Linked DNA regions of Homo sapiens. The protein of the gene in region 3 binds, or shares a complex with, the protein of the main gene of each other region. Each region holds a gene or a part of one and is shown on either strand. Other genes may lie near its edges.

Region 1 (9,305 bases), on a different chromosome or scaffold from region 3:
GCCCAGGCTGGGTGGGCAGGGACCTGGAGCCCAGGCCCAATGGGTTCTGACTTCTCTCTTCTTCACAGGAGTCCTCGCTGGCCACGACAACCGCGTGAGCTGCCTCGGGGTCACCGACGATGGCATGGCTGTGGCCACGGGCTCCTGGGACTCCTTCCTCAAGATCTGGAACTAATGGCCCCACCCCCACTGGGCCCAGGCCAGGAGGGGCCCTGCCCATGCCCACACTACAGGCCAGGGCTGCGGGGCTGGCGCAATCCCAGCCCCCTTCCCCGGGCCACGGGGCCTTGGGTCCCTGCCCTCCCACCCAGGTTTGGTTCCTCCCGGGGCCCCCACTGTGGAGATAAGAAGGGGATGGAATGGGGGAAGAGGAGGAGCAGGAGGCCCTCATCCTTCTGCTGCCCTGGGGTTGGGGCCTCACCCCTCTGGAGGGCCGGAGGCAGGAGGTGGAAACCCCAGGGGCTGGCTTTTTTAAAACTGGTTTTATTTTAATTTTTATTATATTTTCAGTTTTTCCATAAAGGAGCCAATTCCAACTCTGTACCTGGTCTCTGCCCTTGCTGTGTTCTCCTTGTTTCTGGACTTTGTTGCCTGAGGGCTGCTGAGGGGGTGGATGGTGGGGAAGGTATGGGGCCTGCCAGGCAGCTGGGGCTGGGGGTGGGGTCCCCACTCTCCCTCAGAGCAAAGCTGAAGCCCCAGCCCAGAGCCTTCCGTCCAGAGGTTCTCGGATAAGCAGCCCTCACCATGGTTTCCCCCGTCAGGCTGCTGACCAGAGCCAGCCTGACCAGGCGGGCACTGCTCAGAGCTCCTAGTTCCCAGCTCTGTGCAGAGCCACTCATCCCCATGGCTCTCCCCAGATAACGAGCAGTGGAGGCGGAACGGGAGAACACACACCAAGTTTTATTGGGAGAAGGGAGTATTTACAGGAGCAGGTAAAAGAGAGGGAAGTCACACAGGGTGGAGAGGGGGCGGGGAGACTGTGGGTACAAGGCAGACAGGGAACACGGTGACCCCTGCACCCACCCCAACCCCAGGAAGGGCAGGGGAGCAGCGAGGGCCCAGGAAGACCGGGGCCGGGGAAGGACAGCAACAGGGTCTGAGTCCCTGGGCAGGGGGGCTCAGGGGCTTGTAAACATTGACCACTCTCAGAAGGGGATGGGGGTGGGAGAGGGCTCCCCCTATACTTCCTCACAGGGTTAAGGCCTCTCCAGGCTCATGGGCCCCCTAAGTCCAAAGTCTCTTTAGCTGGGGAGAAGAGACAGGAAGAGTGTCCCCCTTCCCCTGCATTGGCTGCGGCAGGGGTGGGGGGGTTACATTCAGTCACAACAGGAGTCTCCCCCACACCTGGCAAGAGGGAAGGGGAGCTGGGGGCCAGCAGCAGCAAACACTCCCCCCGGCCCGTCACCCCTTATTGCTTTAGAGAGAATATTGTCTTTTCAGGGACGCTAACACTGTGGGAACCAGGGAGAGGCAGGTGGGGGCCCCCCACCCCGAGGCCAGCTTGATCCCCCAACACTGACCTAGTTGCCACTTTGGTGCAAAAAAAAAAAAAAAAAAAAAAAAATCCAACAACAGAAAACCAAACACCATCTTTCTGGGACTAGATGGGGAAAGAAACGGGCCACTCCCCATGTCCCCAGGGCAGGAGGGAGAAATACATTCATGGAGGGAGGCAGTGGCGAAGCCTTGCCCTAATACTGCACTCTGAGCAATGAGGTCAATGGGAGGAGCTGGATGAGAAACCCAAAAGACAAAACTGTTACAAAACCCAAAATGGGCGGAGACGAACCCAAGTAGGGGACCGGGAATAAGAAGTGGGTGAGCAATAGAAGGGGCAGCCTCCTCTGACCCAGGAGCCGCACACTTCTCTTCACCCCAACCTTACCCAACGGTAAAAAGCGCATCATATCAGACCCGGAAGGCCACCTGCTCCTCTCCCATTTGGTCAGCGGAAGGGTCAGGTGCAGAGCTGGGTGGTCCACATCTTACGAGCTGGCTACAGGTTGGGGCCCCGGGCGGCAGCCCCTCTACTGCAACCCTAAGCCCAAAGCCACCCACTCCTTGCCTTTGAGGCCCCTCCTCCTGCCCCCTTCACTGGAGAAACAGCTCAGCCTTCTCTCTGCAGCCTCTGGAGCAATCATCCACCCCCGCCGCTCACAGGGGTGAGGCAGCTCAGGCAGGGGTGAGGCGGGGGCTTGTGGCCCAAAGAATACATTCACGTGGCAAGGCAGAGAGCTGGGGCTTTCAGGTTCAAACCCAGGGTGTCCCCCAAAATGGCAGCAGTGGGAGACGCCCCTCACCAGAACCAGAGTCCTGCTGCCCCACCCTGCCAGCCAGAGAGGTTGGCACGGCTTGGCCCCTCCCGTCTACTCGGCCAGCACAAGATGGCAGCCAGAGAGCTGGGGCCACTCGTCCAATTTGTGCAACTGTCCCCCAAAGCAGCGAAGCCAAGGGGCTACTTTGGCCCCACCCCGGACACCTCAGCCAGCCTCAGTGACAGGAGCTGCTCACAACAGGTCTGGCGGGTGGGGCTCAGACAGGCCTCCTGTGCAAACTGCTGGCCCCCAGCTTCCAGTTACCCCATGGCCCGCCTTCTGGGGGGTAAGTATGGCCTTGGGGGCCAGGCAGGACAGGTCCACGGGGCCTGTGTCCCCACTGCCCCAAAATAACAGTGTGTTTTTTCTTTCAGCCTCCTAACCATTTTTTTTTTCATTTTTCATCTTTTTTTCTTAAAAAAAAAAAAAAAACCAAAAAACAAAAACCTCTGTGGACCTTCCATTGTCACACCCACTATCCTCACAGCAGGAAGGGGTGTTTAGAGTCTAGTTTTTAACAATATTTTTGCCTCTCCTAATGTTTTCTTCAGTCGTTTAAAATTAAAAAAAAAAATAAAAAGAAAAACCCCCTCCCCCAGTCTGTAAAGTGCCTCGTGGTGGGTGAGTTAAGGTGCATCGTGTGTTTGTAACAAGTGCTGGGGACCCCGCCCCTGCCTCTTCCTGTGCTCTCTGCGGGGAGCCTGCAGGCTGGGACCCTCGGTCCACGCCGCTGTGGCTGCCCTGGCCTACAGCCCAGGGGCTGGGGGTCCGGGCTGGTCAGTAGTCATCCACGCTCTCGATCTCACCAGAAGATCCGTGCAGGGAGTACCCTGAAGCCGGGGAGAAGCTGCGTCTGAGCTCTCTCCTGGGCTCCTCCTGCCCTGTGCCAAGGAAGTCCCGCTCCTGCCCCAGCCCAGCTCACCCAGGATGCTGGGGTCTGAGTGCAGCATCAGTGCCCGCCTCTTGGCCTTGCTGCCCTCCCCGGGGCCGAGTTTGGTGCTGTGGTTGGCCTGGAAGGCCGTCTGCAGCGAGGCGCTGCTCAGCCATGCCTCCTAAGGCAGCGGAGAGGAGGGTGAAGGTCAGGAGGCACCAGGCAAGCCCACCCCAGCTGCTGGTGCCGGCTGCCTCACCTGCTGCTGCTGCCGCTGCTGGCTGGCTTTCTGCTTGGCCCTCCGCTCCAGGAATTGTTTGGCAAATTCTTTGGCTTCCAGCGTGTCCCCCAGGCAGGAACGGATATAATCGTGGACATCATAGGGGGATTCCACCTCCTTGAGGATCGCTACAGCCATGGGCACTGCAGGATGAGCGAAGGCTGTCAGGGCCCCCTGGCCGGGTCTGGAGACCCAGGTCCCGCCCACCTCCTGGGAGCCGCTCGCCCACCGTCCAGGCTGCCCGTGGCGCTCAGCGTGTGCAGCATCTGCTCGCACCACTGGGTGAAGCCGTCCTGGGGCCTGGGAATGCCCTGCAGCAGCTTCAGCAGCTTCTCTTCTTCCTCCGTCTTTTTGCGAATGGGCCGACCCGATAGGTGGCTGTATGAGTCACTGAAGGGGGAGGGTGAGTCAGGGTTGGAAATCAGCTGGCAGGGGTTGGGGGGGTCTGCCACCTTCCCCCTCAGGGCCATCCCGGAGCCTCCAGGTGCCACGCCCACCTGAGAGATGGGCTGCTCCGGCTGTTCTTCAGGCCGAGGCCACGGACCAGGCTCCCGCCGCTCTTGGGGGTGTCCTCCCAGAGCCCCAGGCCGCTGCTGCCGCCCCCACTCTTGTCTGGCCCGCCCCACAGTGGCCCAGCCTCAGACACCCACTGGTTCAGGGGGGCAGTGCCCAGGCCCCCAAGCTGCTACAGATGGCAGAAGATCAGAGTGGCTCAAACAAAGGCACCCCAGAAAAGCGGATGGGGAGGCTTGTTTAGGTGGCAAAGGGAGACAGGTGAGGTGAGGGCCACAAGAGCTGTTGCCATCACAGGAGAGGCTGGGACTGGGGCTGGGGCTGCACAAGTCTGGGTTCAGTATCCCCCTCCCTGTGCCACCCTGGAAACTGTAGGGGGAGCCCGGGAGGTTCCCGGCCTGCTCACCACTCGGTGGTTGGGGGCCTGGGCCCGAGCTGGCTCCCGAGGTGGGGGCTGTTTGTGCAGCTGCCGCTCGCCCTCCAGCTGCAACTCCAGGAGCGTCTTCATGGACAGCCCCTGCTTGGCCAGGCCAGCCCAGAGTGGGGGCGGGGAGCTGGGTGCGGGGGGCACAGGGACCGCCTGCTGCTGCTGTAGCAACTTCAGCAATAGCTCCTGCTGCCGCACCTAAGAGGGGGACATGGTGAGGGGACCTGGCGAGGGTTGTCCACCCAGCCAGCTGAGGCTTGGGAGCACCCACGTGCTTGCGCCGAAACAGCTCTTCCTCCTCCTGCCGCCGCTTCTGCTCCTCCTGCTGCTGCTGGCGGCGCTTCTCCTCTCGACGCTTGCGTTCCTCTTCCTCCCGCTTCGCCCTGAGCTCCACTTCTCTGCGCTCCTGGAACTGAGACCAGTGGCCCATCAGAGGGGAGAGCTGCAGGGGACAGCCTGGGGCCTGCCTCGGTCCACCCTTCATTCCCAGGGCCTCAGCCCCAGGATGCCCACTCACTTTATGTTGCAGCTGGAGTTGTTCTAGAATTGGACCCTGAGTCGAAGAGTTAATTGGTATGTCCCAAAGACTGGCCTCACCACCTGCAGGGGGCAGGGGGGCAGAGGCGGCTGCAGGTGGGCACTTGGGCCCACTGATCTAGTCCAGCCGCAGCAGTGGGCTCCCCAGCCAGAATGGCAGCTAGGGGCGTGTGGGGGTGGGGAGCAGACCCCAGACCCCATTTCACCCGGAGACTGCCTTGGGGGTGGGGACCAGTCAGGCCACACACCTGACTGTGATGAGGCTGAGGTATGTACGTCCCAGAGGCGGCCCGAATCTGGCACCGACAAGGACCGGCTCATCGTCGGGAGCAGGTTCTGGTCCCCGCCTCTGAGGAGCAAATTGTGGATTCTTAGGACCCCAAATCCATCTCTGGTCTGCCCCCATCCCCCCCCCACCCTGTATCCTGAGGGCTCGCACGCACCACGCACCTGGGGGGTTTGAGCGCCTGGAGCTGCTGCAGGAATGCCGTGAGCTGCTGCTGCTGCTGCTGTGGCGGCGGCGGTGGTGGCGGTGTCAGGTCCCCCAGAGCTGCCTTTTCTCGGAGCGCGCACTGTGGGAGCTGGCGGCTGCAAATGGGACAGTGGAGATGGTGGGCCACAGAGCCAGCGCCGGGCCTTCTCCCAGCCCACCCCAGGCCCCCCATACCTGCTGACCAGCTGGAGAAACTGCTGGTGCTGCAGCTGCTGGTACAAGGCCGCCGCGGCCAGCTCCTGTTGCTTCTTCAGCCGCTCCTGGTCCATGTTTCCCTGCTCAGGTGAGAGCTCGGCCAGTGCCCCCAGCAGGGAGGAGGGGACTCTGCTGGACTCCTGCCGGCACCCCTCACACCCTGTCCCTCCATGCAGGGGAGAAGCGGCTCACCAGCAGTGGGGGAGGTGAGGGCCCTGGGGCAAAGGGCACGCGGCCCCACATCTTGATCACCTCGCCCAGCGGCTGGAAGCCCTCATCGCAGCCCCGCTTCACCAGCAGTGACATGGAAAAGTAGCCGGCCTGGAACCACTCTGCCATCTCCTGTGTCGTGAAGGGGCCTGGACAGGGAGCGAGGGAGCGGGAGAACCACTGGGGTCACAGGGTATGCCAGAGACACCCTGAACCAGAACGGCCTTGAGCAGCCCTCCCATCCCACACAGGTACCTTGGATCTCGCCCTGTGGGTCCTTGTAGAACCACTTCCGGGCAGCCCCATGGCTGAGCGGGAGGGCAGTGGCGGCTGCAGAGTGGCGCAGGCCCTGGGTCTGCATGGCAGCCGTGAACTGCTCCTCCTCCAAGGAGCTGTCCTGCAGGGAGGCCACCAGCTTCTCCGCCTCCTGGATGCCCAGAAAAAGAAGAAAGGCTCAGCTGCCAATCTCAGCAACATCAGGATGGGGATGGGGATGGAGCTTGAGCTGGGGCCGGGGCTGGGGCCAAGCAGGTCAGGTCAGAAGTGGGAAGGGTCCCTCCCGCTTTCTCAGGCCCCCACACCTGCTGCAGGTGCTTCAAGCCTTCATCATCCTCCAGATCTCCGGGTGGGCCAGCAGAGGAGCCCACCCCGGGACTCAGCTGGATCCCCCGAATATCATCTGGAAGGCATGAGATAGGAGGTGGAAAGAAGGGCGGGGAGGAGACAAGATAGCTTTCGCCTACTCTCACTCCAGAACACCACGCTCTTGCCATGGCTCCTCAATGTGAATGCCCTGTGTGCCCACCCCCACGAGTGGGGAGCACTTTCTCCCACAGCCCCAGCGCACCCGGGAGGTAGGCCATCCTCCCTTCCTACCTTCGGCCGCTGGGGGCTCTTTCTCTGCAGTTTCGTCCCCATCCCCGTTTGTCCCCCAGAGTGGGCCCAGGGTGGGCAGTGGGGATGGGGAGCTGGACTTCTCCTCCTGAGGAGGCAGTGGGGTCAGCTCTTTCCCACCTAGAAGAGGGAGATGGCCAGAGTTCAGAACCAAGGGCTGGGCCTGCCACGCGAGTTAGCACAAGCCCTTGAGTGTGGCTGGAACCGCGGGTCACACTCCCTTAGGCCGAGTCCACCACTTCACTTGGGTCAACTCAACTAATGGCAGAGGGAATGCGGTGCCCTGACCCTCGCCTCCACGCTGCCAGACGCGGCAGGAACATATCACAACATCGCACAACACCACACAACACCGCAGACGTCACTCCAGGTTCTACAGCTTCTTCAAGGGACTTTCAAAGGTCATTTTGATTACGCCTGATTTCTATCTGGTACACTGCCTTGAAGACATGGCTCTGCTACCCCCTGGTTCCTCCCCACCTCTCAGCACTCTTCTTCCAGATCTAAGTAGCCTGATTCTACAGGTAGGTGGGCAGCCAATGCCCAGCCCGGCAAAGAACACCAGTGCCTGCCCGGCCCAGCCCCAGGCCCGCTGGGCACCCCGCGGCTCACCTGCCTCAGGCCCTTCCTCCTCTAGCCCTTCGGAAGGTTCCTCCTCCTCCTCCAACCCTTGGAAGTCCAGCTCCTGCTCCTCAGGAATGGGCTCCTTGGGGCCCTTCTGCATGGGGCCGGGGTGGGGAGCAGAGAACAGCTGGGGTGGGTGGGGAGGAAGAGGACCCCGGAAGGGCAGGTTCCCACCCTCGCCTCCTCACAGATACCTTGAGAGGCAAGAAGGCCCCAGAGGCATCAAAGGTGCCCATTTCTTCATCCTCATCGTCCAGGCACCACTCTGGGAGCCCATCCTTGTCCTCCTCAAAGCCTTCAGGCGCTCGGCACCGCCGCAGGTGAGAGCTGCCTCCCCCTCCCCGCCCCTCCTCTTCACCACACCCTCCTCGATCCCCTCGCAAATCAAATTCAAACTTGCGCCGCCGTTCCCCATGTTCCCGCCAGCCAGCAGAGCGGGGACCACCATCTGCACAGGAAAAGTCAGGGAGAAGAAGAGTGGGTACCCAAGCGAAGCCAGCGGCCCCCTCTGCTGCAGCTCACGGAGCACCTCCAGGGCTGCTGTCCCGGCCACTCCCACACCAGCCAGCCTCTGCTCCCTCCCCGTGGCTACAGGAGCCCACCCTCTCATTACAGTTCCTGCTCCCCACTGCCCCCGCCAATGCTACCAGGCCCCAATCTCACCAGGGCTGGCGGAGCGCCAGCGGTCGCCGTCTCGCCGGGGCCCTGCTCCGAGCCTCCAGCTGCCCTCCTCCTCCTCCTCCTGTTCCTCCCGTAGGGAGCGCCAGTTCTCGCTGTCTGAGCGGGCGTGCTCCTTCCTTGGGCCAGCCCCTCCCTCCTCAAAGCCACATCGTGCTGGGAGACGGGAAGACAGGGGCAGTTATTAGAAAGGCAGCGTGGTGCCTGGACCCTCAAGAAACGTTGGGGGGGCCAGCTCCAGGCCCTCCTGCCCCCAACACCTCCGAAATAAGCACCCCCAGACTGGGCCACCCATCTTGGTCCTCCCTGCCGCCCCGGCCGCCGCCCTCAGCAGCCTCGTACCTCCATCCCGCCTTGCTGACTTCTCAAACCGCCTCTCGCCTCTGCAGCAGGGGAAACGTGTGGGTCAGAAACAGTACAGCCTCCCCTGCCACCCTGTGCAACCGCCCCATGCCTTGTCCACTGTGCCCTGAGGCAGTGGAGGGAGGAAGGGGACAAACGAAACCAGGGGTCAGGAGCACCGGGATCTCGGACAGGGCTTATCTGGTGGGCCTCTGTTACCCTCTAGCGACAGGGCCCAGGCCTCCCCTCCCTGGCCTGCCCGGCTCTGCGCCATGCCCCCTCCCCGCCCCACCTGTCATCCCAGCTCTGGCTGCGCTGGATTTCCCGGGGGCTTCGTCCAAAGGCCCCATCGCCTTCTTCGATGCTTCTTTGGTAAAAGCAGCTGTCACCACGGCCGCGGCCTAGAGAAGAGGCCAGACGCACAATGAAACCTGCTGCACGTTCTCGAAGTCAGGGGCCCAGATCTGCCCGTCCCCAGGACACGCCATCACCCCTCTACCTCGGCTCCGCGTGCTGCCCCTGCCTCGGGAGGTGCCAGCCAGGGGGGGGCCAGCCCCTTTCCCCATCAGCCTCAGCACAGCCACGCTGTTCACTGACAGGGAGAAGTTTCTCTGAGGAGGGAGCCAGGGGCGGGAGTGAGGACCCAGGCACCCAACCACCTCCACCCCCACCCCACAGCACCCTCCCCGCCTGTCTCCTCAGCGCTGGCCCCTCTCCTCCTAACCCAACCCATGGCCTCCCCTCCCAGGCTCCCGCAGCCTCAGCTCCTGGCCCGGTCCCACCTGTTCCTCCTCAGTCAGCGGCTCCAGAGCCAGGGGCTGCAGTGGCTCGTCCTGCAGCACCGCGGCGAACTCCTTGTCCTGCAGCTCTTCCGGGACCTGGCAGTGGGTTGGGACAGCCAAGACACCACATGCTGCCAGATCCCC
Region 2 (11,061 bases), on a different chromosome or scaffold from region 3:
TATTACACTAAAATTAAGCCACAATCATGAACTACCAAATTAAAGACGTTACAAGAATAAGGTTTAAAACTAATCATAACTTTTAACACTTTAATATTAAAATCATACCAAAGCCTATCTTATCTACATCCTCTTCAAGAGTAGCTATCATTGTTTTATATCATGTAAGGGTTTAAGCTAATAATCTCATAGCCTAGAAACCTCAATATAATCATCAACTGGCAGGCCAGGCATGGTGGCTTATGCAGGAATAAGCCTTATGCTTATGCTTGAGCCCAGGAATTCGAGACCAGCCTGGACAAAATAGGGAGACCCAACCTCTACCCGCAAAAAAAAAAACCCCATAAACTGGCTTATCTTCAAAAGTGGATGGGTGTCAGTCTTGTACATGAAATATTAAGATCATGTAACAAATACATGTAACAAATTGTTTCAATAATCCGTATGGAAACCTTAACTCATAAAATGCACTACAGGAATTGTCTTGTGCCTTTTACATAAAACCAATAGACCCCCTGAACTTAACAGTACATTTTTCATAAAAGATTCTTATGTCGGCTCAGCACCATTAAGATATTACCTATTTATGCATGGCAATTATAAAGACTTTGAAAAAAAGCAAATCCGTGCACTGTTTAAGGAATTTTTATTAAAGCAAGAATTTTATAATCCAAATTACGTTTCCTTGCTCAGTTATCAATTCTGTTACTTAAAACAGAACTGACATTCTGAGCTATTCCACAGTAAAGAATTACAAAATTAAAGAAAGGAATGCTTTAAATTTTTGTACTTTGCTGAAAATTCTTTTTCCCAGGGTCTATAAAACATTAATTTGTTTTTATATTTTACTATTTTTTTGTGTTTTTTTGTTTTTAAATCAATAAGTAATCTAGGACTAGCATTATGTTTGCTAGACCTGGCATTTGCTCGGTACATAAGGTTCAAAGTTTCCTTTCCTTTTTTTATTTATTTTATATTTTGCAATGTTTTTTTTCCATAATATTTAAGTTTTTCGATGTTTAGATATTTTTCTTCGGTGAAGCACAAGTTTCTTTTCATGGTCCCTGATCAATCTGTAAATGTTAAAAAAACAAATTAAGACCAGGACTATCACTTGTCAGTAGCAAATTAAAGCCCTTAGCCAAATGCAATGTGGTTGTTTTTATCCATAGTTTTACTGGAACACAGCCATACCTGTTCATTTGTATACATACTATCTATGGTTGTCTTGACATGGTAACACTGGAACAAGATCATTTCAGAGATAACACAGTCCTCAAAGCCCAAAATATTTCCTATCTGGCCCTTTACAAAAAACATTTGCCAATCCCTGGTCCTGATCCTGGCTGCACTACTCAATTTCTTGGGAGTGATGAAAGACAGTAGTAGAGACCCAAGGGCACCACCCAAAAAGGAAAGGTAAAACTATGAAAGCCAACCTGTGACAGGTCATTTTATATATATATTACTATACAAAATCTGGCAGGGCGCAGTGGCTCACGCCTGTAATTTCAAGACTTTGGGAGGCCGAGGTGGGCGGATCACTTGAGGTCAGAAGTTCCAGACCAGCCTGGCCAACATGGCAAAACCCCAAGTCTAGTAAAAATACAAAAATTAGCTGGGCACGGTGGCAGGCATGGGCCTGTTAATCCCAGCTGCTCGGGAGGCCGAGGCAGGAGAATTGCTTGAACCTGGGAGGTGGAGGTTGCAGTGAGCCGAGATCGCGTCAATGCACTCCAGGTTGGGCGACAGAACGAAACTCCATCTCAAAAAAAAAAAAAAAAAAAAACACCACCTGAAAGTCCTGGGATTTTAAAAATCCAACAGTTAACGGGTAAAATTCCTTTAATTCCTCTATAGTTAGTTCCACTTTTCCTTGAAAAATTAGCAATACATTTAAATGAACTGTAAAATGATCTTTTGCTATGTACATTTCAAAATATGCTCAACAAACTTTATAAAAGATGAAGAAAACAAGCTTAAAACAACAAACCAGAGGGAAAAGCTCACTTTAAACAGTTGGAACACCGGTGGCACTGTTAACTGCTTTCTGGGCAGCCTCTTTAGCTTGGTGGGCTTGTAGTACAGCTACAGCTTCATCAACCTAAAAAAGGGGAAAACAGATAAACTGGTTCAGGAAAGGAATGGAAATAAAGAGTTTCATAATGGTAACATACCAATTCCCAACAAAGATAAGTTTCTTCCCTCAAATGAAAGTATAAATTGTTACACTAAACAACTATATCCATTCAATTTTGAGTTCTATTACACCACTATTCTAGAATTATGAATCGCTCCCCTGCACTACTCTTTCCTTGTCCTCCCCACACTCGAAAAATATTTCTCTTTCTCCACTAGAGAAAGCAGCAGCAGTTGAGAGTATGGCTGTTGGAGCTGATGGGATTTGAAGCCAGGCTCTGCCACTTAAGAGCTGTGTGAGCATTTGGCAAATTATTCAGCCTGTTTCAGTTTACCTATCTATAAAATGGGGATAAATAGCGCCACAGGTTATTATGCAGACTTTACAACTGTACATGGCTTATATATAACACGATGTAAGTGTTCTGTACAATTAAGTCCCCATAAAAAGCCACGTAATAACTGTGTAAGAGGCAACTTGGTAAATAAATTTAAATCACCTTAGAACGGAGTGACTCTGGAGACTCGAGCATATGAAGAAGTTCTGAATTATCAATCTCCAACAACATGCCAGTGATTTTACCAGCAAGAGTAGGGTGCATGGCTTGAATAAGAGGAAACAGCCGTTCACCTAGGAACAGAAACATTCAAAAACTCCCTTCAATAAAAAAAAGTTTTTAACTGCATTGAATTACCACATTAAACTGGGGTTTAAGAACCATACTTCTGTCTCACGTATATAATAACCCATAATCCACAATTTCATTATGTCTTCATGGGAAGACAGAATAAAATCTGCCACAAGGCAATTAACTCTTGATATTATCAGCTTGCCAATTAAGCAATGTTACCATTAGGTTGTTAAATCGGTGTTCAGGCAAAGTCACAAGTTTTCTTCTCATTTGCTTCAAATTCCTTCTCTCAAAAATGTAGTGAGGGCCCATGGTGAGTAATGCCCTACTACCCTATTTATTACTAACAATACATTTTCTTATTGGCTTTCCAGTGGTTTTAATTAGGCAGACCAACTGTACTATCATAATCATTCATGCCAATTCAGATCAATTCCACTGCCCTAGCTGTCAATTGATTGACCTAGTGCCTAAGTGATTCCTATATTTTCTAGTCTTTCTGAACTGACAAGGTGGGACAGAAGTACTCACCCAACATTTGCTTTTGCTCTTGAGGAGGGGCAGATGCCAACATGGAAGCAGTCAAAGGTTCCTGACCTTGTACATGAACAGCAGGCTAGACAGAAAATGAGAACTCTTAAGTTTAAAGCACAGAAAAAGATGGCAAATACAAATAGTCATCAATGGACATCTGCTGAAGTGGTAGACTTCCATCGAAACATGAGGTGGAGAAGTTGAGTGAGCGAATTAGAAAGAAGCCAAAGTAGTTATTATATACTATGTATCACAGATACATTTTTTTTCTTTTTGAGATGGAGTCTCACTTTGTCGCCCAGGCTGGAATGCAACGGCACAATCTTGGCTCGCTGCAACCTCCGCCTCCGGATTCAAGCAACTTTCCTGCCTCAGCCTCCCCAGTAGCTGGGATTACAGGCATGTGCCACCAAGCCTGGCTAATCTTTATATTTTTAGAGCTGGGGTTTCACCCTGTTGACCAGGCTGGTCTCAAACTCCTGACCTCAAGTGATCCACCTGCCTTGGCCTCCTGAAGTGCTGGGATTACATAGAGGTGTGAGCCACCACGCCTGGCCCATAGCTACTTGTAATAGTTGTTTCAGACCAGGCGTGGTGATTTAGGATGTGAATTTCTCGCTGCTTGTCCAATTCCAAAAGCGTAAGACATTTTACATACTATCATATTAGCAGAATGTTCCAGATAGGCTAAGCTCTCAAGAATCTATCATGCAGCTGTCTTCACATTTTTTCTTTTGAGACAGAGTCTTGCTGTCACCCAGCAGGGATTACAGCTTGCTGCAGCCTTAAACTCCTGGGCTCGAGCAATCCTCCTGCCTCAGCCTTCCTAGCAGCTAGGACTACAGGCTTATGCCACCACACCCAGCTAGTTTTCTTTGTGGAGACAGGGTCCTGTATGTTGCCCAGGCTGGTCCCAAACTCCTGGTCTCAAGCAATCTGCCTGCCTCAACCTCCCAAAGTGCTGGGGTTATAGGTGTGAGCCACTGTGCCCAGCTGTCTTCACACCTTTGATTTCACCCAAGAAATGTGATTTTTATTAAGAAATCATTAAATCCATACCTGTTGCATTGTAACTTGTGGCTGTGCATTAAGATGTTGCTGAGGATTGCGAACTCCTGCAGCATATTTATACTGTGGAACGGTGCGGACAGCAGGAGTAGCTGCAGCGGCTGCAGCTGCAGGACGTGGACCCATTGTCTGTGTTGATGTGTTAGCTAAAAAATAAGAACATTTTGTATTTTTATCTTGCTCTTTCAAATTGGTGATCAATTTTTAAAGGAAGGATTAAGACTCACCAACACGCTGTGTTGACATGACTCGTGGAACCTGTGAAGAAGCTGGTCTCATAGTACTAAATGGTGGTCTAGGAGCAGCTGGGCGGATAGCACCGGGCATATTTTGGAATGCTGCATTTTAAAGATGTGAATATACATTAACTGGGAAAACTTACTGAGTGAAAAGTGTTTATGCTGTCTTCTTCGATCTGAGGTTTGCATAAAAGACTAAAAAGTGACAAAACTTTTTAAAGCTGAGTCTTAACACTTGCCATTTTCCCAGACTCAGAGCATCAATAAGTAAAAACATTAATTCATACAAGGACGAGTACTTATATGTAGCGACCAGCCCCACAGGGTCGGTGGGCTTCTCCCTGTATGCAGCGACGAGAGAGTGCAGAAATAAAGACACGAGACACAGAGATTTAAAAAAAAAAGACAGCTGGGCACGGGGGACCACTACCACCAAGACGCGGAGACCAGTAGTGGCCCTGAATGTCTGGCTGCACTGTTATTTATTGGAAACAAAACACAAGGGGCAGGGTAAAGAGTGTGAGTCATCTCCAATGATAGGTAAGGTCACGTGGGTTACGTGTCCACTGGAGAGGGGGCCCTTCCCCGCCTGGCAGCCGAGGCAGAGAGGGAGAGGAGACAGAGAGAAAGACAGCTTACGCCATTGTTTCTGCATATTAGAGACTTTTAGTACTTTCACTAATTTACTACTGCTATCTAGAAGGCAGAGCCAGGTGTACAGGATGGAACATGAAGGCAGACTAGGAGCGTGACCACTGAAGCACAGCACCATAGGGAGACGGTTAGGCCTCTGGATAATTGCAGGCAAGCCTGACTGATGTCAGGCCCTCCACAAGAGGTGGAGGAGCAGTCTTCTCTAAACTCCCCAGGGGAAAAGCAGACTCCCTTTCCCGGTCTGCTAAATAGTGGGTGTTTTCCTTTGACACTTACGCTACTGCTAGACCTCGGTCCGCCTGGCAACGGGCGTCTTCCCAGACGCTGGCGTTACCACTAGACCAAGGAGCCCTTTGGTGGCCCTGTCTGGGCATAACAGAAGGCTCGCACTCTTGTCTTCTGGTCACTTCTCACTATGTCCCCTCAGCTCCTATCTCTGTATGGCCTGGTTTTTCCTAGGTTATGATTATAGAGTGAGGATTATTATGATATTGGAATAAAGAGTAATTGCTACAAACTAATGATTAATGATATTCATATATAATCATATCTAAGATCTATATCTGGTATAACTATTCTTATTTTATATTTTATTATATTGGAACAGCTCGTGTCCTCGGTCTCTTGCCTTGGCACCTGGGTGGTTTGCCGCCCACACTTATAAATATACCTGAAACATAATCATGATAAAATTCTAAGTGCTCCCAGCCTGGCCAACAGGGCAAAATCCCGTCTCTACAAAAAATTTAAAAAATTAGCTGGGCGTGGTGGCGTGTGCCTGTAGTCCCAGCTACTTGGGAGGCTGAGGCAGGAGGATCACCTGAACCCGGGAGGTGAAAGCTGCAGTAAGCCAAGACCATGCCACTGCACTCCAGACTAGAAGAAAGAGTGAGACTCTGTCTAAAAAAATAAACTCTAAGTGCTCTTGGAATATAACATACTGTTCCACAGGACAAGACATAAAATACCACGACTCTGATTCTCATACATGATTAAATGGAACGAGACCTTTAAAACTGTGGCCTGACAAAATATGAAATTGGCTGGGTGCCATGGCTCACGCCTGTACTCTCAACACTTTAGGAGGCTGAGGTGGGCAGATGACCTGAGATCAGGAGCTCAAGACAACCCTGGCCAACGTGGTCAAACCCCATCTCTACTAATAATGCGTAAGTTAGCTGGGCGTGGTGGCGGGCACCTGTAATCCCAGCTACTCCAGAGGCTGAGGCAGGGAGAAATCGCTTGAACCTGGGAGGTGGAGGTTGCAGTGAGCCGAAACTGAGCCACTGCACTCGAGCCTGGGGCAACAGAGCGAGACTCTGTCTCGAAAATAAATAAATAAATAAATAAATAAAAAATGAAGAGCTGTACCTATTCCCAAAACTTTTATAAAGGGAAATCAAACCACTGTAGACATTACTATCTTAGCACTGCTTTTAAATGCTATAAAAATGAACATCCATAACCACAAATTATGTGAAATGCAATAGTTAACCTAACATTGACATAGAAGAGCTGATTTACCCAATGTGTTATTTTTAACTCAATCCCCAACCTTAATTAAAAGAAAAAAGACTTACGATGAGGTCTGGCACCCTGAGCAGTCCAGCGAGGACTTGGTCTTAGTTGAGCAATTTGGCTAGGAGGATAGTATGCAGCACGGTTCTGAGTCTGCAGGGAAAAAAAGCACATGAGTTTATCAGTTGAAGAAAAAAGCAAATAATGCAATAAATTATATGTACTTTTTCAAAACATTTACCAGGACTTCACACTCAAGCATTTTTTCCTACTCAATCATAATTCCCCTTTCTTAATGTTTCACATTTGCGGGGCGAGGGGCACAAAAAACACTAGAAATGACCAAATACGAAAACCTTCATGGTTCTGGTTGCCTTCTAAAACCTACCTGTGGGATAGCTGCCATGAAGTAACCTGAAGGAGGTGCTGGCTGGTAGGGGTTGATTACAGGGTTGGGAACAGCTCGTACACTTGCCATTCTCTGCATATACTGGTTAGTGAGGTGAGCCTGGCGCTCTTCTTTGCGCTGAGCTAAAGCTACATACAATGGCTTTGTGGCCACAATTCTACCGTTCATTTCTGTAACTGCTTTAGTGGCTTCTTCTGGGGAGGAGAAACATACAAAACCAAACCCTTTGCTGCGACCACCCTCCATCATAACCTATTAAAAAAAAGAAAAAAAAAGTTAACGTAATGGTAGAATGAGGAGCAAAAAAAGAGCGTTACAATTTAGACAATTATAAATCACTGAATCAAATAACTAAACCCTGTTAATGCTTAATCATCTTGTATTTACCCATTGAGTTCACAATTTTTCCTTAATACCCAATTATTAAGGGCAAACTACACATATGCATTACCCTAGCCAGGTCAGAGAACTGACAGAAGTGAAGGCTGCACAGAAACTTTTAAAGATTTTAGATACTGAATTTGATTGGATTTTCAATATTGAAATTTAATTATCTAAATAAATACATCCCAGGCCTACTAAATTGACTTTTGGGCACCACTGGAAGCATTTCCCAATTAAATTTTGACTATTCTAACAATTCAAGCTGACAAGATGCTTCACTATGCCTTTGAGAAAAAAGTAGTTGAATCTTACAATACCCACATCTTAAAATAAAAGTTTTTACATTCAAGAGCAGAGGATCCATAAATATTACGGTATAAAGAACACTCAAGAGGAAGGTTCTTCTAAAATTGATTGCAAAGACCTTTTAAATGAGCAATGAAGACTTGCAAAGAACCACTCGCTAGGCCAGCAATATATATAAGCATGCTATAAAACTACATTAACAGTATGCGAGTGGCATAGGAACAAACGGTAATAAAACAGAGGCCAGAAATATACCCAAGCAATTATGGGAATTCACTGTGCTAAAGTTAACATTTTAAAGTACTGGGGAAAAAGGACTTTGGGCTACTCAATACATGACACACTGGGACAAATGAAAAAATGTAGAACTCTTAATTCACATTACATTGAAAAATCTTAAATGCCAGGTAGATTCTGAATCTGAACATAGAATGTAGAAATAGAGAGAAAACCTTTCTAAGATGACACACACACAAAGTGAGGTCTATAAAGTGGAAAATTCGAAGAAAATATTTCCAATATAAAACAAATGTTTGGCCGGGCGCGGTGGCTCACGCCTGTAATCCTAGCACTTTGGGAGGCCAAGGCGGGTGGATCACCTGAAGTCAGGAGTTCGAGACCAGCCTGGCCAACGTGGCGAAACCCCGTCTTTACTAAAAATACAAAAATTAGCCGGGCATGGTGGCAGGTGCATATAATCCCAGCTACTCGGGAAGCTGAGACAGGAAAACTGCTTGAACCCAGGGGGTGGAAGTTGCAGTGAACTGAGATCACACCACTTCACTCCATCTCAAAAAAATAAAACAAATGTTCCCTTAATCAATAAAAAGACAGACAACCAGCCAGGCACGGTGGCTCACGCCTGTAATCCCAACACTTTAGGAGGTCACCTGAGGTCAGGAGTTGGAAGACCAGCTTGGCCAACATGGTGAAACCCCATCTCTACTAAAAATACCAAAAATTAGCTGGGCGTAGTGGCACATGCCTGTAATCCCAGCTACCCAGGAGGCTGAGGCAGGAGAATCGCTTGAACCCGGGAGGCGGAGGCTGCAGTGAGCTGAGATTGCACCACCGCACTCCAGCCCAGGCGAGAGTGAGACTCGTCTTTAAAAAAGACAAAAAAAAAACACCTCATAAGTTTAAGAATTTGTGTTGCACTGCATTAAAAGCATTCTTGGGCCGCATGTGGCCTGCAAGCAGCGGGTTGGACAAGCTTGGCTTAAGCCCAGGAAAGGCTGAGGCTGCAGTGAGCTGTGATTGTGGCATGCCCCTGCACTCCAACCTGGGCAACATAATGAGATCCTGTCTCAAGAAACAGAAAAACATGCATGCTTCATACATTCAAAATATGCTGATGCACAACACTCAATTTAAACAATATCCAGGGAACACACTGAAGACAAAAACATTCAGGAATAAATTCTATCGTACTCCAATACTCTTACATAAAAAGCATAATCTGAAACACAAGACAACCATGGCACTTCCATCTTACTTGTATTCAACCACCTTTCCCCTAACATTTCCTCACTCTCACAGAAGCTTCCTCGGACTTGCCAGGAAAAGCTGACTAGAAAGATCAGCCACAGCGTCATTCCAGTTCAGTTGAGTTGTAATTTTTTTCTATGCACTCTTCCCCAACCCCAGCAAAATTATGTATGCACAAAACCTTGCATATAGGGGGACTCTTGGCCCACGGATGCTAGACAAAAACATCTAGAAGAGAACTTCTTAAATCAAGATTTCAGAATTTGTACTAGAATACTACTGCTTTGTTTCTTAATCTCTGATTTCAAATAAAAGAAAATATGATCTCTATTCTTACTGCTAGGGGGCAGGGGAGGGAACTGGGGCTTGACTACCCAGAATGAATTGTAGAAATGAATAAACAGATCAGAACTATAGTAACAATTATAAGTCCCTAATAAATTGCTTGCTTTAGCAAAATGACTAGTTGTTGGAATAGTGCATATCATGTGAGGATATCAGCCTTCCTTAGCAAAGAGTTCAGTGCTTGCCATTTTTAAGTTAACCATTAGGCTATGACAACCAGTTCAAATGTGAATTTAAGTTTTAGAAGTAACGAAGCAAACACCTCTCTAGTGGCTATAATAATACAAAATTTATATACATATATCTACATGTATGAATTTTTACTAGACCTCAAATAAATGAACCATATGTTTTCTTACCTTTGCACTAGTGATTGTACCAAATGGAGAAAACTCTTTCCGGAGACGTTCATCATCAATACCATCATCAAGATTTTTCACATAAAGATTAACACCCTAAAAAGAAGAAAAGAAAACTATAGAAAAAGAAAACCATGGTGGTACCTAAGTACATCGGGTCTATTATTTTACCCCATATTTCTTCTCCTATTCCCCTCTCAAACCCTCCAGCTACCTGGAAGTAACTGAAATCAACGTAAAATAGGTTTCCTCATCCCTGTCTTATTTTGGTTGTTCAATTAAAAATGAACCTGGTATCTGGTGATCCTATCTTGTTTCATCTGTTCAAATTTGCGCTTAAGTTCCGTCTGCCGTTCCACCTTTTTCTGAGCTCGACCAACATAAATTTGTTTTCCATTGAGCTCCTTTCCGTTCATCTCATCCACAGCCTTCCCCCCAAAAAAAAAGAAAAAAAAAAAATCACAAAACTTTCAACTTACAGTTCATTTCCTTAACAGTTAAGACAAATTTGTTAAGTCACAAAAGCTAAAGACAAACCCATCCCAAAATCTCAAGGTTTTGGGACAATATAGGTTACCAATTTATACTCTCAAACCTAATGCATAAAATGCAAATAACTGAAAATATAAGAACATGTCAAATAGCTATTAGTATGCACATAGACTTCAACACAAGAGCAACTCAACTTTGTACCCCCTTCTTCCTGCTGAATACAGACCACTTACTTTCTGTGCATCTTCATGCCTTTCAAAGCTTACAAATCCAAATCCTTTGGATTTTCCACTTTCATCAGTCATTACTTTCACACTTAAGGCAGGCCCTAAAAAATTTTTTTACATAAATCAAAGATATTCCATACAACATTCACGTTATACATTTCAAATTTCAACATACAAAGCCATGAAAAAAATTTCAAAGCTCCGTAACTTGACTCCTCCCTCCCAGCCTTCTATGCCCCAGGTAGGTATACTTTTCCATTGAAAGAC
Region 3 (11,061 bases):
GCTGTCAGTGGATCTACCATTCTGGGGTCTAGAGGACGGTGACCTTCTTCTCATAGCTCTACTAGGTGGTGCCCCAGTAGGGACTTTGTGTGGGGGCTCCAACCCCACATTTCCCTTCCACACTGCCCTAGCAGAGGTTGTCCATGAGAGCCCTGCCCCACAGCAAAGTATTGTCTGAACATCCAGGCATTTCCGTATATCCTCTGAAATCTAGGTGGAGGTTCCCAAACCTCAGTTCTTCACTTCTGTGCACCCAGAGTCTCAACACCACGTGGAAGCTGCCAAGGCTTGGAGATTGCTCCCTCTGAAGCCATGGCCCAAACTGTACCTTGGCCCCTTTCAGTCACAACTGGAGCGGCTGGGACACAAGGCACCAAATTCCTAAACTGCACACAGCATGTGGACCCTGGGCCTGGCCCATGAAGCCATTTTTTCCTTGTAGGCCTCTGGGCCTGTGATGGGAGGGGCTTCTCTGAAGACCTCTGACATGCTCTAGAGACAGTCTCCATTTTCCCCATTGTCTTAGGGATTAACATGCAGCTCCTCGTTACTTAGGCAAATTTCTGCACCCAGCTTGAATTTTTCCTCAGAAAATGGGATTTCCTTTTTTTTTTTTTTTTTTTTTTGAGATGGAGTTTCACTCTTGTCACCCAGGCCGGAGTACAGTGGCGTGATCTCGGCTCACTGCAACCTCTGCCTCCCAGGTTCAAGTGATTCTCCTGTCTCAGCCTCCCGAGTAGCTGGGACTACAGGTGCCTGCCACCATGCCCAGCTAATTTTTGTATTTTTAGTAGAGATGGGGTTTCCCCATGTTGGCCAGGCTGGTCTCAAACTCCTGACCTCCCGTAATCCACCCATCTCAGCCTCCCAAAATGCTGGGATTACAGGCGTGAGCCACCGTGCCTGGCCAATTTTCTGAACTTTCATGTTCGACTTTCCTTATAAAACGGAATGCTTTTAGCAGCACCCAAGTCACCTCTTGAAGGCTTTGCTGCTTAGAAATTTCTTCTGCCAGATACCCTCAATCATCCCTCTCAAGTTGAAAGCTCCACAAATCTCTAGGGCAGGGGCAAAATGCCGCCAGTCTCTTTGCTAAAACAACAAGAGCCACCTTTGCCCCAGTTCCCAACAAGTTCCTCATTTCCATCTGAGACCGCTGCAGCCTGGACTTTATTGTCCATATCCTTATCAGCAATTTGTCAAAGCCATTTCACAAGTCTCTAGGAAGTTCCAAACTTTCCCACATTCTCCCGTCTATTTCTGAGCCTTGAGTTCCAACCTCTGCCTGTTACCCAGTTCCAAAGTTGCTTCCGTGCCAAGACCAGCTTGATCAGGGAGACCCTAACCCAGAGGCACTAGAGGAATTAAAGACACACACACAGAAATAGAGCGGTGTGAAGTGGGAAATCGGGGGTCTCACAGCCTTCAGAGCTGAGAGCCCTAAACAGAGATTTACCCACGTATTTATTAACAGCAAGTCAGTCATTAGCATTGTTTCCGTAGATACTAGATTAACTACAAGTATCCCTTATGGGAGATAAAGGGATGGGTTTGGCTAGTTATCTGCAACAGGAGCATATCCTTAAGGCACAGATCGCTCGTGCTACTGTTTGTGGTTTAAGAACGCCTTTAAGCAGTCTTCCGCCCTGGGTGGGCCTGGTGTTCCTTGCCCTCATTCCGGTACACCCACAACCTTCCAGCATGGGCGTCATGGCCATCATGAACATGTCACAGTGCTGCAGAGAGTTTTTTTTATGGCCAGTTTTGGGGCCAGTTTAATGGCCAGATTTTGGGGTGGGGGTGGGAATCACGGGAGTTACAATTCAAGATGAGATTTGGATGGGGACACAGCCAAACCGTATCAGATAGTTGGAAAGTAATGGTTTCTGCCTTTTAGCGGCAGCCTTCAGGGATTTGCTCTGTTGTATTAACCAGAAGAACCTGGGAGCACTGATTCCACACCGGGTCTGGGGACAGGCAGAGGTGGAGAGCAGAGCTTCCCTGGAGATTCTCGGGCCTCATCACCCCCGTCTCTCCTGGCACAGATGGGAAAACACAGGCCTCCCGGGCTGGTGGGAAGATCCAAAAAGTCAGAGTCACCACGGGGAAGTGGGAAGGGGGTCTGCAGGGACTGTGAGGTTTTGGTTTACCAAAGATAGCATGGGCCTCCCAGGCTGAGAAAGGCTTTCCTAAAGCACGCAGTGACGGCCTGTGCTGTCCCACACTTCAGCACAATAAGAAGTGGGGAGGGCCGCACTATCCACTGGCACGGGGCCTTGTCAACCAGGTTCTCCCCTCTTGTTGCAGGTTCTGCCTGGAGCACCGACACCTCAGGAAGAACCAGCAGCTGGCTCGTTCTTCGAAACCTCACTCCCCAGGTGCAATATGGTGCCCCTGCATCACTGAGCATGATCCAGGGAGGGTTCCCGCTTGGCCCCCAATGCAGATGAGGCTGTCTGGTGGGGCAGGATAGTTGGGGGTTCTTGGTCAGGGTCCATAAGTGACGCTGCATGGGAGGAGATGAGCAAGTGCCAGGATTGGCTCCAGCAGCGGCAGCAGATGGGGCCCAGGGGCCTCTTTTAACCATGTTCCTGGTGAATTGTTTGTTTCCCCACCAGAGGCTGGAAAAGTGTGCTCTGTAAATAGAATTGTTTATTTTACAACTAGCCATTCAAGAGTGGTTGGGCCTGGCTGGGCGCAGTAGCTCATGCCTGTAATCCCAGCACTTTGGGAGGCCGAGGCCAGGGATCACCTGAGCCCAAGAGTTGGAGACCAGCCTGGGCAACATAGCAAGACCCCATGTGTGTATTTTTATAACATTTTTTAAAAGAGTCGTTTGGCCACATCAGACTGTGGGGCTAGCCAGTCCCTTCCCGGGACCCAGGCCACACCCACCTGCACGTCTCCCAAGTCTGTTGTCAGCAGCTGGACCCAGGTGCCTTTTGCAAACCAGAGGCTCTGTGCGACGTGCTCTGGTGAAAGGAGAGCAGAATTCAAAATGGGGTTTTTCTCCTTCCTCTGATTAGCCTAACTTATAAAATGTAACTGAAGCATCCAAGTTTTTAGTTACACGTTTGGCCACAGAGATATAAAACGTTAATGTTGTAAAACCACATATTATTAGGCCTTTTAAAGAAAAACATTCCTAGTGTTTAGTGTATCCAATTTCATACGTTTTTTCTTTGGAAGGCTGTAGTGAAAGAAATCAGAAGAAAGCTCATTCATGTCCCTGTGCTTCCTCTATCAGATTGATGGTTCTACACTGCGGACATTGTGTTTGCAACATGGGCCTCTTATCACATTCCACCTGAATCTGACTCAAGGCAATGCTGTGGTCCGGTACAGCTCCAAGGAGGAGGCTGCCAAGGCCCAGAAGTCTCTGCACATGTATGTTTTCTCACAGCCACCTCAGCGCTCCAAGTAGCTCCCCATCCCCCAGAGCATTAGGTTAGGGGTGTTGCAGGGGTGTCCTGAGCCACCATAGCAGAATCCCACAGGCTGGCCACCCTCCCACTTCTGGAGGCTGGAAGTCTGATACCCAAGATGAAGGTGTGGGCAGGGCTGGTTTCTCCTGAGGCCTCTCTCCTTGGCTGTAGACAGCTGCCTTCTCCCTCTGTTCTTATATGGTCGTCTCTTTGTGCATGTCTGTGCCGTAATCTCTCCTTATAAGGACACCAGTCCTGTTGGACTAGGGCCTACCCATGTGACCTCATCTAACTAACTTAATTCCCGCCTTAAAGACCCCATCTCCAAACGTAGTCACATGGGGAGGTACTGGGTGTTAGGACTTCAACAAAGGAATTGGGGAAAGGCGACACAGGTCAGTTCCTCACAGGTATCTTGGGACTTACTGGTTTTTTTCTGCTGCTGAGTTGCTGTGTCTACTCCCTCCCTGTGACACATTCCTACACAGGGCCCAGCAGTGGTCCTCACAGCCAACCCTTCACCCTAGTGAAAGGTTGCTTTTGATAGAAGTACGAGTAGACCTGATCAGTAACATCACTTGAGACGTTGGAACCTAGAAATTAGTCATTCCTGTTTTTAGCCCAGGATGCAAATGACACTGACCCTAAACGAGCCCACATTTAATGATCTGTTCACGCACTTGAAGATGTACTCTGTGTACCAGTACGATGTTGCCACTAGAAGTCTGAACTGAGCAAAACATTCACAGTCTGGGTTTGGAAATAGCAGTGGCAAAACAGAAGCCACAGGATGGCTTCCATGTGGGGCCGTTCCCAATACAGAGAAAGCCAGTGCCACGAACTCAGCAGGACTTGGGGTGGCCCTGTTCACGTGCCCCATCTTGCTGTTGCAGGTGCGTCCTGGGAAACACTACCATCCTGGCCGAGTTCGCTGGTGAAGAAGAAGTGAATCGCTTCTTAGCCCAAGGCCAGGCGCTGCCACCCACTTCCAGCTGGCAGTCCAGCAGCGCGTCCAGCCAGCCGCGGCTCAGCGCAGCGGGCAGCTCCCATGGCCTGGTACGCAGCGACGCTGGCCACTGGAACGCCCCGTGCCTGGGTGGCAAGGGGAGCAGTGAGCTGCTGTGGGGCGGGGTGCCCCAGTACTCCAGCAGCCTGTGGGGCCCGCCCAGCGCCGACGACAGCAGGGTGATAGGCAGCCCCACGCCGCTAACCACCCTGCTGCCTGGGGACCTGCTCAGCGGGGAGTCCCTGTAGGCTCTGCCATCATCAGCACCAGGAGAGCCGACCCCTCCCGGGACCCCTCCCGGCTGGGCGGCCCCACAGACCCGCTGGAACCCAGCAGCGGCCGCCCTTTTGAGTACCTCTGTCCAGGACTGAAGACGAACCTTGGCCGCAGTCCTTGCGAACTGTTCGCAAAACAGTGCGGGCTGCGGTGGGTCAGCGTCACATGCTAATGACAGGATGTTCCTCGTAGCTTTTTATTTTGTGCGTCTTATGTTTGTATAGTGTGTTGTCATTTTGATTTTTTTTTTTTTTTTAAGTATAAAAGCTGCTTAGAATAGTTCTATCATGAAGGGCACTTTTCAGATTGTGGGCTGGAAAGGGTTATTTTATCTGTGGGGGAGGGAGGGAGACGTGAAGCCTATTTAAAATGAGCCTGTGACGATTATGCACATGACCAGAGGCGGCCGGTAATCAGGGCAGAGTCTGGTGTGGACCGCCGGGCGCAGAGCGGCTCCGCGGCGGGAGCTGAGCGGAAGGCGCGGGCTGCGATCTGCTCTCTGTTCCCCTGGATCCGCCTATGCACATTACCCTTGTTTCATTACTTTTTCATGTCATTTTTTTATCCCAAAAAATATTTTTTAAAAGTTAAAAAAAGACATATCAAACATGCAAATACTTGAATCCAGCAGGCCAATAGTGAAATGTGAACACTTTCTAATTCTACACTTCCAGGTTGACATCAGTACACAGAAACAGGCTCTAGGAAAAATTTCTAAGTTCATAGCCTACGTGTGTGTATGTGTGCGTGTTGAAACAGAAGTGTGTGTGTGTGTGCATGTGTGGCGCGTGCTCCTGCACGGCGTGCAGTTTTCTGTGTTTGTGTGTTTGAAAGCGTGTGAGGATTTAACTGTGGGTTTTCCCTTGTATTCAGTATACGCTTTTTTTTTGGCGCATTGGTCAAACGGTTGTTATTATTAGCTTCTAACTTTGCACTGAGTGTCCTCGCCCTTCCTTTAGCTAATCCTATACATTACAGAGAATTCCTAGGACAGGGCTGGCGACAATTCATGTGTAAATGTTTACTCAAGGACTCTGTGACTGCGTTTAAAAAGTACAGTGTATATCTCTGGAGAAATAACATGTATACCTACCTTTAGCAGCTTTTTATTGTGGACTAATGCAAGAAAATTATTACCAGAGTATTGCACCATTTTTCCATTTGGAATATAAAGTTAAAGAGAAAAAAAAAAAAAACTGTTGTTGAACTGTGGCCATAGATACTTGTAAAGAATGGATGGTTCCGTGGAAGGAACAGAAACAAGCACTTGGGCGTGGGTTGTGACTGCTTTTGGGGGAGCCTGGGGTTTGGGCTCCCACCTGTTTACAGACCTTTTTTTCTCCTTCAGACTTTAAAATTTTAAAAATTTAAAAAGGAATTAAAAAAAAAAAAAGACTTCCGTCGTAAAGAAACCTATTTTCAGAATGCAGATGCGTTCCTTCAGAGCTCTGGGACGGGACAGTGTTGTTCCCTCGGCCATCGTCGTGGACTCTGTCGATTGCTTTCGCCCCTTCGTCAAGGTGACAGGCGTTGTGGCCACTGTCTTGCACATGCCGGACGCGCTCTCAGGAAAGCCAGGGCTCCCGAGGGCAGCTCCACACCATTTCATGTATTTTTAAACCCAACTCCTAGCACTGAAGATGTTATTTAAAAAAAAAAAAAACAAAACAAAACAAAAAAATGAAAAAAAAGAAAAAGAGGAAAAAAAAACACAAAGAAGAAAAATACCTAATCTCTAATGTGTAGCAGTTACATATTTACCAAATAATGGACTCAAAAGAAATAGATGTTTGAAGAGTGCTTTATATATTAAAAATTGCTTTATGTTTTAAAAATGATCAATGTTTTGATTGTTTTGCAAGGAAGAAAGACAATGGAATAACATACCTTCAAGTATGTTTTAAAAAATATATATATGAACATTGTGCTCCCTGCCTGCTTGATCAGGAAACTTGTGCATTACATTTTTTTAATTAGCTTTTTAATGGTTTTATCAAAACAAAAAAAATACAAAAAAAAAAAAAAAAGTCCTGCAAGACTGCAGATCCACAAAAGCTGGTTTTATAGAGGATCATGAACTATGCACAAACTGGGTTCAAGACTTTTTTTCTCAAGTTTAGTAGGATATTTAGAAAAACCAACCTTCCTCAGAGTGACTGCATCTCATTGCCATTACATGCGTTCTATATATTCGATGGACATACACCTGCGTATGTATATCCAATATGTGTGCGTGTGAGCATGCGTGTGCGTATGTGCGTCCGACATACCACTTCCCGTGCTGCCGGCGAGCATTGAGTTGTAGAAAAACTGTTGTTTTAAAATTGGGGATGGAAGTCAAGAATATGTTTGTTTGTTTTTGGGTTTTGTTGGGTTTGAGGGGTTTTTTGTTTGTTTGTTTTTTGTTTTTTTTACCTTTTATTTTGAACTTAATATGTCTGTAACTCTGAGATTAAACAACAAGTTCGTGGCTCTTAATGTTTTCCTCATAGAATGTGACTGTTGAAGAACATGCATCGAAAGTTGCTTTCGAAAGTACAACGCTTTATTGAATCTTAATAAATTGCAATTTTTTTCTTGGCTGTTCAAAGTAATGTGTTTTTCATTTTTCAAAAGACACTATGGATGTCTACTTTGCACGCTGCGATTGGGAGAGCTGTCCCGCTGCATGCGTTCCCTCTGTAATTTCCTCAGAGCTCACATACGTACCTCTCTCACGAGTGAACTCAGATTTTCCATTGTTTTGCTTTATTCTATCATTTGCTTTGTGGTTTTGCTGTAAATATTGAAATCTTAATCATCATCGAGAGGCACAGCCAAGCTTTCCAGCTCTCCACCCCCGTGGCCCATCCAAGTCTGTTCATCTGGTAACTTCTGTTGTCTGGGACGGCAGCAAGAAGATGCCGGGGCTTGCCTGGAGTCCTGGCAGAGGAGTGCCACTCACTTTTGCCTAGGGTCCAGTTGGGGCTTAAAAAATATTTGGAGAGAAGAGTAATGAGGATTTTTTGTGTTTCCTAGACATTTTATGCATCTATTTTTGTAAAATCACCTTCGCTAACTTTCACCAAGCACTTTGAGCACAGTGGAACTTCAGAAGCACAACCAGCCTAACCCCAGAATCTCAGGTGGCACAGCTAGAAATTGAGTCCCTTCCTAGGACACTGGCCGTGGCCTTCAGGGTGACCAGTCAGTGCCACCGGGTTGGCATTGGTGTTACAGACAGGCCTCTGAAGACAAACCGAGCACCCCAGCGGCCCCTCAAACTAAGCAAGGATCTTTTTTCTGTCTGCGCTCCCTGGGGCAAGGTCAAAGGTGGACCCGCCCACTGTGGGTCAATTCCTTCGAAAAGATGGGACCCGCACCCCCGCCACAGGCTGGCCCCCCCCCACCCATGGGGAAGGTGGTGTGCTGCTGGCTCTGACCATACTCTTTTGGAAATTGAGAAGGAAAGCATTGAGTGGGACCTAATCCGGAGAAGAAATTAAAGACCAGAAAAAGAAGGAAGCTGGGAATGAAACTCAAAATGCACTTGAACCTGGAAGCGGCAACCCTCAGCTCTGCGCGGCCGAGCCTCAGCAAGAGTTCGTTTTGTGCCTGAGTTACTACTACAGGGGCAAACTGTACCCGTGCCTGTGCGCTGGGAGAACAAGGTCAGCGCCCAAGGGTGTGCAAAGGATGTGGCAGGCTTCATGGAGGAGGTGGCATTTGCCCTGGGCCTGGGAGACCAGGTTGGATTTTGACAGACTGGGAACTCGGGGGACAGGAGGGCAGCACAGTGTAAGCTAAAGCCCTGTGTAGGGACCCCACGCAAAGACCTCGTGGGCCTGGGTGTCCAGGGCACCATTTCCACCCATGGGTGAAAAAGAGGCTTGAGGAAGACAACAGGTTCTTCACCTGCATCTGTGGATATATATTTTTTTAAGTTTATTAAATTTTTTTTTAAATGGCAGTTTCAGACCTGCCCTTTGTGGTTTGTGTTTTTGTTTGTTAATACAGGGTCTCTGTCTCCCACGCTGGAGTGCAGTGATGTAATCTCGGCTCACTGCAACCTTGACCTCAAGGTTAAGCTCCAGCGATCTTCCGACCTCAGCCTCCCAAGTAGCTGGGACCACAGGCATGCATGCGCCACCCCACCCAGCTCATTTCATTTTTTATTTTTGTAGAGATAGGGTCTCACCATGTTGCCCAGGCTGATCTCGAACTGCTGGGAATACAGGCATGAGCCAGGTGCCCAGCCTTTGTTGTTGTTGTTGTTGCTGCTATTTTGGCAACATCACGGCAGAACGGTAAAGGCAGAAAGCACAGTGCCCAGCAGCTAGCAGTGTGGCGTGCCAAGAAGGCTGTTCCAATGGGGGAGAAGCCAGCAGACACAGAGGCATCATGGCGAGCCCCGACTGAGTGTTCAGTGAAGAGGGAAAACAGAGACAGTGGGGCATCCCGAGAAGATCCTCTGCAGGAGTGCGGTGTCTACGGATGGACCAAGAAAACCTACGCAGGATCCACGTGGAAACAAAGCTGCTTAGCTCTGCATATCAGTGCTTCTCGGCGGAGCTGTGGCTGATGGGCTCCTGGTGCAGGACTGGCCCCTGAACAGCACAAGTGTAGTATGCCTGGGCCCCAGGTCATCATGAAAACCAGAAGCAGACACTCAGGAGGCTGAGGCGGGAGGATCACCTGAGCCCAGGAGGTCGAGGCTGCAGTGAGCTGTGATCGTGCCACTGTGCTCCGGGATGGGCAACAGAAAGACCCCATCTCAAAAAAGCAGAAGCACATTTCCGAAGCCCCCCAAGCCCACGGGCGTGAGTGCATGCATGCGTTTGTGACAGCCTGGTGCTCGGATGGGCCCAGAGCAGGGGTTCTCAACCTTGGCCCATTAGAATTACCTGAAAATTTTTAAGATAATTCACATCCGGCCAGGCATGGTGGCTCATGCCTGTAATCCCAGCACTTTGGGAGTCCGAGGCGGGCGGATCACCTGAGGTCAGGAGTTCAAGACCAGCCTGAGCAACATGGAGAAACCCTGTCTCTACTAAAAATACAAAATTAGCTGGGCATGGTAGCACATGCCTGTAATCCCAGCTACTTGGGAAGCTGAGGCAGGAGAATGGCTTGAACCCAGTAGGCGGAGGTTGCGGTGAGCCAAGATCGTCCCGTTGCACTCCAGCCTGGGGAACAAGAGTGAAACTCCATTCCAAGAAAAAAAAAAAAAATTCACATCCAAAATTTTAAAGATAATTCAAATCCAAATCAACTCAATCAGAATCTCTCGGGGTGGGCCTCAGGCACCAGTGTTTTTTTGTTTGTTGGGACAGGGTCTTGCCATTGCCCGTGCTGGATTCAAAACACCTGGGCTCGGCAGGTGTTGTGGTTCATGTCTGTAATCCCAGCACTTTGGGAGGCCGAGGCGGGCAGATCACTTGAGGTCAGGAGATCTTGACCAGCCTGACCATCATGGTGAAACCCCATCTCTACTAAAAATACGAAGATCAGCCAGGCCTGGTTGTATGCACCTGTAATCCCAGCTACTTGGGAGGCTGAGGCAGTGAGCCGAGATCATGGAACTGCACTCCAGCCTGGGCAAGAGCAAGACTCTGAAAAAGCAAATAAACCGAAACTCTTGGGCTCAAGCAATCCTCCGCCTCAGCCTCTGGAGCAGCTGCAATTACAGACAGGCGCCACCACCTCCAGCAAGTACCAGTGTTTTTAAAACCTCCCTGGTAGATTCCGTTGTGCAGCCCAGGCCGAGAAGCATCGCGGAGTCTTGTCATTCAGCCTGAAAATAGCATCAAGTTCCCATCCACTCGAACAACAGTTTGTAGATCTTAGGCTGCTCTCATCGAGCAAACATGGCCTCCTTGCAACACCTCAAATGGGTGCCAGGCATGGTACGCAGCACACAAACTGTGTCACTTGATACAGCGGCCCCATGAGGCGAGGAGCTGGGAGGTCACAGAACATGCCCCAGGGCACCCAGGGACACACTGAAGCCCAGGCCTCCAGCACGCAAGGGCTGCTCTGAAGAAATACGGGAGGTCCTCACTGGAGGGTCTGGGGCCACACGGTGGGTCCGGAGACAGAAACGAGGAGAGGACGGGCTCACCCAGCCGTGGGGCCGCGGGCTGGACATCCAGTGGGAGTGGGAAGCCGCCGTCTCAAGGCAGAATTCCCTCTCTGGGACACCTCGGGTTTTGCTCTTAAAGCTTTCAGCTGATAGGATGAGGCCCACCCACATTCTCAAGGATGATCTTTAGGTGAAATCGACTGTAGGTGTTCACCACATTCCAGCAGCACACGATCACAGCAACACCTCGGCCCCTCTCGATGAGATCACTGGGCCCCACAGCCTGGCCTGGT

Evidence for each region.
Region 1: the proteins of TNRC6C (region 3) and GIGYF1 are in contact, whole or in part, in a crystal structure (PDB 7RUQ), measured with the Homo sapiens proteins. Residues at the interface, in NP_001136112.2 of Homo sapiens: Arg1719, Pro1720, Pro1721, Pro1722, Gly1723, Leu1724, Thr1725; in NP_001362694.1 of Homo sapiens: Tyr479, Asp481, Pro482, Gln487, Phe490, Trp498, Tyr503, Phe504, Leu508.
Region 2: the proteins of TNRC6C (region 3) and PABPC1 are in contact, whole or in part, in a crystal structure (PDB 2X04), measured with the Homo sapiens proteins. Residues at the interface, in NP_001136112.2 of Homo sapiens: Pro1593, Pro1594, Glu1595, Phe1596, Pro1598, Gly1599, Val1600, Pro1601, Trp1602, Leu1605, Gln1606; in NP_001425211.1 of Homo sapiens: Pro555, Gln556, Lys559, Gln560, Gly563, Glu564, Phe567, Gly579, Lys580, Thr582, Gly583, Met584, Leu586, Glu587.

What each region holds. Positions count from the first base shown.
Region 1 is NC_000007.14:100,678,627-100,687,931, forward strand, and holds the end of GIGYF1 (GRB10-interacting GYF protein 1), read right to left. Parts: intron 9,258-9,305; coding exon 9,162-9,257; intron 8,991-9,161; coding exon 8,879-8,990; intron 8,781-8,878; coding exon 8,672-8,780; intron 8,421-8,671; coding exon 8,380-8,420; intron 8,194-8,379; coding exon 8,023-8,193; intron 7,808-8,022; coding exon 7,554-7,807; intron 7,454-7,553; coding exon 7,348-7,453; intron 6,856-7,347; coding exon 6,718-6,855; intron 6,521-6,717; coding exon 6,423-6,520; intron 6,269-6,422; coding exon 6,097-6,268; intron 5,991-6,096; coding exon 5,824-5,990; intron 5,715-5,823; exon of another isoform or gene 5,712-5,714; coding exon 5,611-5,711; intron 5,532-5,610; coding exon 5,394-5,531; intron 5,293-5,393; coding exon 5,192-5,292; intron 5,007-5,191; coding exon 4,924-5,006; intron 4,819-4,923; coding exon 4,678-4,818; intron 4,605-4,677; coding exon 4,386-4,604; intron 4,152-4,385; coding exon 3,964-4,151; intron 3,857-3,963; coding exon 3,696-3,856; intron 3,610-3,695; and 8 more. Other genes in the region: GNB2 (guanine nucleotide-binding protein G(I)/G(S)/G(T) subunit beta-2), read left to right, coding at 69-175. UniProt on the Homo sapiens protein: May act cooperatively with GRB10 to regulate tyrosine kinase receptor signaling. May increase IGF1 receptor phosphorylation under IGF1 stimulation as well as phosphorylation of IRS1 and SHC1.
Region 2 is NC_000008.11:100,702,287-100,713,347, forward strand, and holds the end of PABPC1 (polyadenylate-binding protein 1), read right to left. Parts: intron 10,896-11,061; coding exon 10,801-10,895; intron 10,504-10,800; coding exon 10,366-10,503; intron 10,172-10,365; coding exon 10,076-10,171; intron 7,446-10,075; coding exon 7,173-7,445; intron 6,938-7,172; coding exon 6,847-6,937; intron 4,712-6,846; coding exon 4,601-4,711; intron 4,520-4,600; coding exon 4,365-4,519; intron 3,388-4,364; coding exon 3,303-3,387; intron 2,771-3,302; coding exon 2,640-2,770; intron 2,105-2,639; coding exon 2,012-2,104; 3' UTR 2,011-2,011; exon of another isoform or gene 1,074-2,010; 3' UTR 630-1,073; downstream 1-629. UniProt on the Homo sapiens protein: Binds the poly(A) tail of mRNA, including that of its own transcript, and regulates processes of mRNA metabolism such as pre-mRNA splicing and mRNA stability.
Region 3 is NC_000017.11:78,100,167-78,111,227, forward strand, and holds the end of TNRC6C (trinucleotide repeat-containing gene 6C protein), read left to right. Parts: intron 1-2,307; coding exon 2,308-2,378; intron 2,379-3,247; coding exon 3,248-3,387; intron 3,388-4,318; coding exon 4,319-4,679; 3' UTR 4,680-8,656; downstream 8,657-11,061. UniProt on the Homo sapiens protein: Plays a role in RNA-mediated gene silencing by micro-RNAs (miRNAs). Required for miRNA-dependent translational repression of complementary mRNAs by argonaute family proteins.